Linked DNA regions of Homo sapiens. The protein of the gene in region 1 purifies or fractionates together with the protein of each later gene. This does not show direct contact. Each region holds a gene or a part of one and is shown on either strand. Other genes may lie near its edges.

Region 1 (3,818 bases):
TCATAACTAAGGGAGCCGAGTCTGGGGATCTGGGGCTAACTAGCCTGGGAAAACGTTGGTTATCGGAAGATTATCGTAGTCACAGTTCTTGTTTTCATTTATTCGGTAAGTATTTGCGTGCTCACAATGGTTATATACGCTGCTAGTCACCGAGGGTACAGTGAAGACATTTCTTCACTTACAGGCCTTTCTTTCTAGTGCTCACATAATAAGTGTGCATGGAAGAAAAGTAGTAGTAATCATAATCACATAATAATAGTAACGATAATTGGACATTGTGAAAAGTGCAAAAAGGAAAGGGAGCTATTCTAGGATACCTTTAGAGTGATGAAGGAAAAACCTCTTCAAGGAGGGGACCTTTCAGTCAACCCATGGAAAAAAGCTGAAGGAGTATTTCAAGGGAGGGAGTAGATGAGTCTGTGTTGGAGATTACTAGATGGTACTCAGGGACCATGTCTTACTGAATCCCTCACAAGGGCCTGTCACTAAGAAGGTACTTAGTAGTGTTCCTTCTTCCCTGTCCCCAGCCCCAACATGAACTCATATAACCAAAATTTATGGTGGAGTTTCTGTATAAAGGATGCTGTCCTTTTGTTTTGTTGGCTTGTGGTACTTCTCAGATTACATATCCAACTTAATTATGGCATTTCTTTTCTTATTGGGTTTTATTAGCCTAAGGTGCTCTAAAAGCTAAGCCATAGGCTTTTAAAAAAATTTCTCCTGCTGGAATCAACTTTGTGGTTTTTAGCAGAACACCTAATCTCTCTGTGAAATGGGCACACTAAGGTCCTACAGATCTTTTCCTGTGCGCTGTGAGTAAAATTTGTTTGGTACTATGGAGAATGTGAAGTAATTCTGTTAAAGATTCTGTTAAAGATTTCCTATTAGAAATAGGCTTAAGGCATAAAAGCTAAGTATTTCTTCTTCTTTTTCTTTGCTTAAACTGTTCTTGTGTGTTTTACTATATAAGATACTACCAATCCTACACCGATAGTTCCTTTTACCTGGAAGCTGTTGATGATGTGTCTAGATATTTTAGAAACTCTTTTTTTAAAGTATTTTTTGTGGTAAATAACTAACATAGAATTTGTCATTTTAACCATTTTTAGGTGTACAATTGAGTAGCATTAAGTACATTCACATTGTTGTGCAATCACCCCACCATCTATGTCTAGAACTTTTTCATCTTCCCAAACTGCAGCTCTTTACCCATTAAACAGTGATTACCTAGGTCAGGCGCAGTGGCTCACACCTGTAATCCCAGCACTTTGGGAGGCTGAGGTGGGAGGATCCCTTGAGGTCAGGAGTTCAAGACCAGCCTGGTCAACCTGGTGAAACCCCGTCTCTACTGAGAATCACTTGTACCTGGGAGGCAGAGGTTGCTGTGAGCTGAGATCATGCCACTGCATTCCAGCTTGGGCTACAGAGGGAGACTGTCTCAAAAAAAAAAACACAACAAATCCAAAAAACAATGATTACCCATTCCTGCCTATCCCCTGCCCCTGGCATTCACTCTTCTACTTTGTGTCTCTATGAACTTGACAACTCTAAGTACCTTATACCAGTGGAATCAATCATATGATATTTGTCCTTTTTTTGTTTGTTTGTTTGTTTGAGACAGAGTCTCGCTCTGTTGCCCAGGCTGGAGTGCAATGGCACGATCTTGTCTCACTGCAACCTCTGCCTCCTGGGTTCAAGCGATTCTCATGCCTCAGCCTTCTGAGTAGCTGGGATTACAGGCGTGTGCCACCACGCTTAGCTAATTTTTGTATTTTTAGTAGAGATGGCGTTATGCCATTTGACCAGGCTGGTCTTGAACTCCTGACCTCAAGCGATCCTCCCACCTTGGCCTTCCAAAGTGCTGGGATCACAGGTGTGAGCCATGAAGCCTGGCCTGGTATTTGTCTTTTTGTGATTGGCTTATTTCTGTTAGCATAACGTCCCCAAGGTTCACTCATGTAGCATGTATCAGAATTTCTTTTCTTTTTAAGGCTGAGTAATACTTCTCTGTCTACACATAGACGGAGGAATATTATTCAACCTTAAAAAGGAAGGAAATTCCGATAGATGCTACAGCATGTACATACATACCACATTTTGTTTATCCATTCATCTGACATTTGGGTTGTTTCTACCTTTTGGCTATAATGGATAACAAGTATTTCTTCAAGACTCTGCTTTTAATTCTTTGGAATAGGTACCCGCAAATGGAATTGCTGGATTATATGGTAATTTTAATTTTTTGAGGAACCACCATATTATTTTCCATAATAGCTGCATCATTTTTTATCCTTATCAACAGTACACAAGGGTTCCAATTTCTTTGCATCCTCGCCAGCACTTGTCATTTTGTTTTGTTTTTTTGATAGTAGCCTTCTTTGTGGATGTGAGGTAATGTATAACAGTAGTTTTAATTTGCATTGCCATAATTATTAATGATGTTGAGCATCTTTCTATCATGTGCTTTTGGATAAATATCCAATTCCGGTACTCACTGTTTAACGGAGTTGTTTGTTTGTTTTTTGTTGTTGTTGAGTTGTAGGAGTTCTTTATGTGTTCTGGATATTCACTCCTTATCAGACATATGATTTGCAAATATTTTCTCCCATTCCATAGGTTGCTTTTTCACTCTGATTTTGTCCTCTGATACATAAAAATTTTTACTTTGGATGTAGTCCAGTTTATCTGTTTTGACTTTTGTTGCCTGTGTATTTGGTGTCATATCCAAGAAATCATCACCAAATTCAATGTTGTAAGACCTTTCCTCTGTGTTTTCTTCTAAGAGTTTTATAGTTTTAGCTCTTACGTTTAGGTCTTTGATCTACTTTGTTATCCTTTAAAAAAATTGTGATGAAAACACATAAAATTTGGTATCTTAGTTATTTTTAGGTGTACAGGTCAGTAGCATTAAGTCTTTTTTTTTGAGACGGAGTCTTGCTCTGTTGCCCAGGTTGGAGTGCAGTAGCATGATCTCGTCTCACTGCAACCTCCTCCTCCCAGATTCAAGTGATTCTCTTGCTTCAGCCTCCCGAGTAGCTGGGATTACAGGCGTCTGCCACCATGCCCAGCTAATTTTTGTATTTTTAGTAGAGATGGGGTTTTGCCATGTTGGCCAGGCGGGTCTTGAACTCTTGACCTCAGGCGATCCACCCACCTCGGCCTCCCAAAGTGCTGGGATTACGAGCATGAGCCACCATGCCTGGCCTCAGTAGCATTAAGTCTTATTTACATTGTCTTGGAATAGATTTCCAAAACCCCTTTTATCTTTTTAATATCTGTAGAATTGTGTTTATCTTATTACTCCTGATCACTCTGACCAGAGATTTGTGTTTTATTGATCTTTTTGAAGAACCAGCTTTTGATTTCATTTTCTGTATTTTTTCTGTTTTTTTGTTTGGTCAATTTCCATTCTGATCTTTATTATTTCCCTTCTTCTGTTTACTTTGGATTTAATTGTCTCGTCCTAGTTTCTTAAAGTGATAGCTAAAGTCATTGTTTTGAGATCTTTCTTTTCTAATTAAATGTTTAATGCTATAAATTTTCTTCTACAAGGCTGGGTGTGGTGGCTTAGGCCTGTAATCCCAGCACTTTGGGAGGCTGAGACAGGAGGATCACCTGAGGCCAGAAGTTTGAGACCAGCCTGGGCAACATAGTGAGACCCCATCTCTACAAAAAATTTTGAAAAATTAGGTGAGTGTAGTGGTGTGTGCCTGTTGTCCTAGCTACTTGGGAAGCTGAGACGGGAGAATCCCTTGAGCCCAGGAGTTTGACTTTATGGTGAGCTATGATCATGTCACTGCACTTCAGCTTGGGCAGCA
Region 2 (3,818 bases), on another chromosome or scaffold:
TGCTGGCTCCCACCAGCTCTCCATGGGCCAACCTCACAATGCTGCAGGGCCCAGCCCGCATACACTGCGCCGAGGTAAGCAGCCACCGTCCTCCTTGCCCTCAGGGAAGCCTGTGCAGACCTCCTTAAGTTAGTGCAAGGATTCAGATGGTGAGGTTTGTGGCCAGATCTTTTCTATGTCTGTTGTAAAATCCCAAGCAGAAAATTCAGTCATTCAAGAGAAAAGTCATTAAAGAAAAAGGAAAAAATAGAGAACAGAAAAGCAGACATTTAGTTTTTCCTTAGGCGTGACAAAGCTTAACAAACAGTCAGTTCTGCAGAAATGCTCCCAGTTTTCCTGGTGTCCCAAGCCCTCGCTCTGTTTGGAGACTACCACAGCCTCTGTACTTCTCAGCTTTGTGGGTCTGGGAGGCACTTTTGCTTCGGAATTGGGGTGAAGGCTTTCTAGGTCCTGATTAACAGAATCTGAACTGCTCCCACCTGTCTTCCCTGCAGTCCTCCACCCAGCAGCCAGGGGAATTGCTTTAAAACTCCAAGCAGATCATGTCGTCTCTTGGTTAAACTCTTCAGTGGCTTCCATGCGAACTTCTCACCCTGGGTTCTCTGTGCTTTGGTGGGGCCTACCTCTGAGCCCAGAGCTTACACTCCCTCCTCTCAACACACTCCACTCTTGGTTCCTTGAATGAACTAAGTTCATCCCCTCCTTAGGGCTTCCAGAACATTCTGTCCCATATCTTCACATGGTTTCTTCTTACCATTCAGGTCTCACCTCAAAAATCACTTCTTCCAGCTGGGCGTGGTGGCTCACACCTATAATCCCAGCACTTTGGGAGGCTGAGGCAGGAAGATCGCTTGAGGCCAGGAGTTGGAGACCAATCTGGTCAACATAGTGAGAGCCCACCTCTACAAAAAAAATTTTAAAAATTATCTGGGTGTGGTGACACACACCTATAGTCCCAGCTACTCAGGAGGCTGAGGCAGGAGGATCACTTGAGCCCAGGAGGTCGAGCCTGCAGTGAGCTATGATTGCACCACCGCACTCCAGCCTGGACAACAGAGTGAGACCCCATCTCTAAAATAAAAAAGAGAGGCCAGGCGCAGTGGCTCACACCAGTAATCCCAGCACTTTGGGAGGCCGGGGTGGGTGGATCACTTGAGCCAGGAGTTCAAGCCTGGCCAACATGGTGAAACCCCATCTCTACTAAAAATACAAAAATTAGCCGGGCATGGTGCTTGCACGCCTGTGGTCCCAGCTACTCAAGAGGCTGAGGCAGGAGAATTGCTTGAACCTGGGAGGCAGAGGTTGCAGTGAGCCAAGATTGTGCCACTGCACCCCAGCCTGGCCAACAGAGCAAGACTCTGTCCCGAAAAAAGAAAAAAAAATGGATTAAATTCACTGTGTCTGTCTATAGAAGCATGGTCTTTACAAAGCACTACACAAATGTTAGTGGAATTTCTACAAATCATAGGCAGGGAGGCAAATCCGAGTCCACTGCTTGGTTGCAGACCCCCACTTTATTCTTCTTCAGGCTGCCTCTCTGGGCCCTGTCATCTTATCAGGATCTCAGCTGATCCTTGAGGGAAGTTAGTCTTCTGGACCTAGATTCCAGGTGTGACTCTGGTTTTGGATTAAGAAGACTCTTTTCCTTATAGCCGCATTCAGAGTCTTTCATGCTTCCCGAAATCACAGCTCCCAGGCTTCTTCGCAGGATGGGTTTGATTCTTTTTTCCTTCCCCACCCCCTGCGCCTCTGAGGTGGTCTCAGACAAGGCCTCCATTTCTCCCAGCCCCCTCCCCCTGACACTTTGCTCCCACGCTCCCTCTCCCCATCCTCTTCACACCCTTAAATTTCAGGAACGAGCTTTTATTCAGTATGACTTTACAATTAGTATTGCTTAGAACAGAAAACTAGACTTTTTTTTTAAATGCCGATGGCAGTCTGGAGTACAGCTAATGTAAGCTGGTTGGTGGTTTCTGAGTTCCAGGGTTGAAAGTTCCAGACCAGTGTAGCAGAGTAGACTTTACCCTTTTTTCTTTTTTTTTTTCCTTTCTTATGTTTTTTAGAGGCAGGGTCTCGTTTTCTCACCCATGCTGGAATGCAGTGGCGTGATAATAGCTCACTGCATCCTCCAGCCACTGGACTCAAGTGATCCTCCCACTTTGGCCTCTCAAAGTGCTGGTACTACAGGCACATGCCACCATGCCTGGCTGCTTTATTTTTTTGTAGAGTCGGGGTCTCACTGTGTTGCCCAGGCTGGTCTTGAGTGATCTTCCTGCCTCAGCCAGTCAGAGTGCTGGGAATACAGGCATGAGCCACCGAGACTTTACCCTTTTCAATCCTGAATTCTGGGCCCTGTAAACAGGCAGCCGGGGAATAGGGGAAGGAGGAAGAGGAAAAAGCATTCAGGGAGTCCACATGTCATGGGCAGGAGTCTCAGTTCTGCCCCTTACTAGCTGTGTGACCTATTACCAAACACTGGCCCTCTTCAAGCCTCAGTTTTCTTCTCTGTGAAAATGGGGATAACAGAGCTTGCCCTGCAATGAGCTTATGAAACTTGAATGAGATAATTTATATAAATTATAATGTGCATAATTTATATAAAAGGCCTTACTTGGTACTGGTGATAAGAGTGATACATGTTCATTTCTTTCCTTCATTTCCTTCTCCTTCTTTCTTAGAGAACCAGTAGGATCTTAGCAGAGTTTGAAAAAGGCTAAAATCTCTCCTTTCCCCCTACCCCTCCCAGCCCAAAACCAGAGCCCCAGATCTGTTGTTTTCCCTCCTGCCCTCATCAGTCCCAGGTTCCTATCCCTGATCTCAGCTGGTGTAGGGAGGAGAGTGATGTGATTCAGCTCTCTTTAGAGAAATAATTCTAAGGCAACTCTTCCAGATTTATTCATGCTTTTGTCCAGGACATATCTATTAACTCAAATGGTTGCGGAATTGGTAGAAATTCTGTTATTAAGACCAATCAAACCAATCAAACTCTCAAGGAGAAGGTGGCTTGGGATCAGGGGTCATGTTATATCAGGGTGAACTAGTCATGCTTGGTGGTCCCTCCTGGCTGTTCTGCCTCTTTCTGCGTCTTCCCATGGGGCCCTAATGAGGAGGCTGCTAAGTGGGCTGAGGGCAGCACTTCCGTGTCATTGGGGTGGCCTCTGTTAACAGTTTTCTTCTTATTGAACTTTCAAAACGATAGGCCTTTAAAGCCCTTTCAAATGTGCATAATGTACTTAATTTTTAAAATAAACTTGTTTGTTTGGAGTAATTTTGAATTTATAGAAAAGTTGCAAAGATAATGCTGAGAGTTCCCATATGCCCCTTACTCAGTTTCCCCTGTTGTTAATGTGTTACATGACCATGGCACATTTACCCCAGCTCAGAAGTCAACATTGGGCTAGTCCCCCCATCCCCCCCAACTTTTTTTTTTTTTTTGAAATGGTCTCACTCTGTTGCCCAGGCTGGAATTCAGTGGTGTGATCACTGCAGCCTTGGACTTCCCAGGCTCATGGGATCCTCCCACCTCAGCCTCATGAGTAGCTGGGATTACAGGCGCATGCCACCACGCCCGGCTAATTTTTGTAGTTTTTTGTAGAGATGGGGTTTTGCCACGTTGCTCAGGCTGGCCTTGAACTCCTGCACTCAAGTGATCCGCCTGCTTTGGCCTCCCAAAGTGCTGAGATCACAGGCGTGAGCCACTGCACCTTGCGGTTCATTACCATTAACTAGACTCCACATTTTGTTCAGATTTCCCTAGTTTTTCCACTCATGTCCATTTTCTGTCCCAGGATCTCATCCAGGAGCCCACATTATATGTA

What was found.
Region 2: the proteins of NXPE3 (region 1) and ARHGAP17 purify together in Homo sapiens (co-immunoprecipitation; one large-scale study listed by IntAct). This does not show direct contact.

What each region holds. Positions count from the first base shown.
Region 1 is NC_000003.12:101,785,711-101,789,528, forward strand, and holds part of NXPE3 (NXPE family member 3 isoform 1 precursor), read left to right. Parts: intron 1-3,818.
Region 2 is NC_000016.10:24,931,726-24,935,543, reverse strand, and holds part of ARHGAP17 (rho GTPase-activating protein 17), read left to right. Parts: coding exon 1-74; intron 75-3,818. UniProt on the Homo sapiens protein: Rho GTPase-activating protein involved in the maintenance of tight junction by regulating the activity of CDC42, thereby playing a central role in apical polarity of epithelial cells.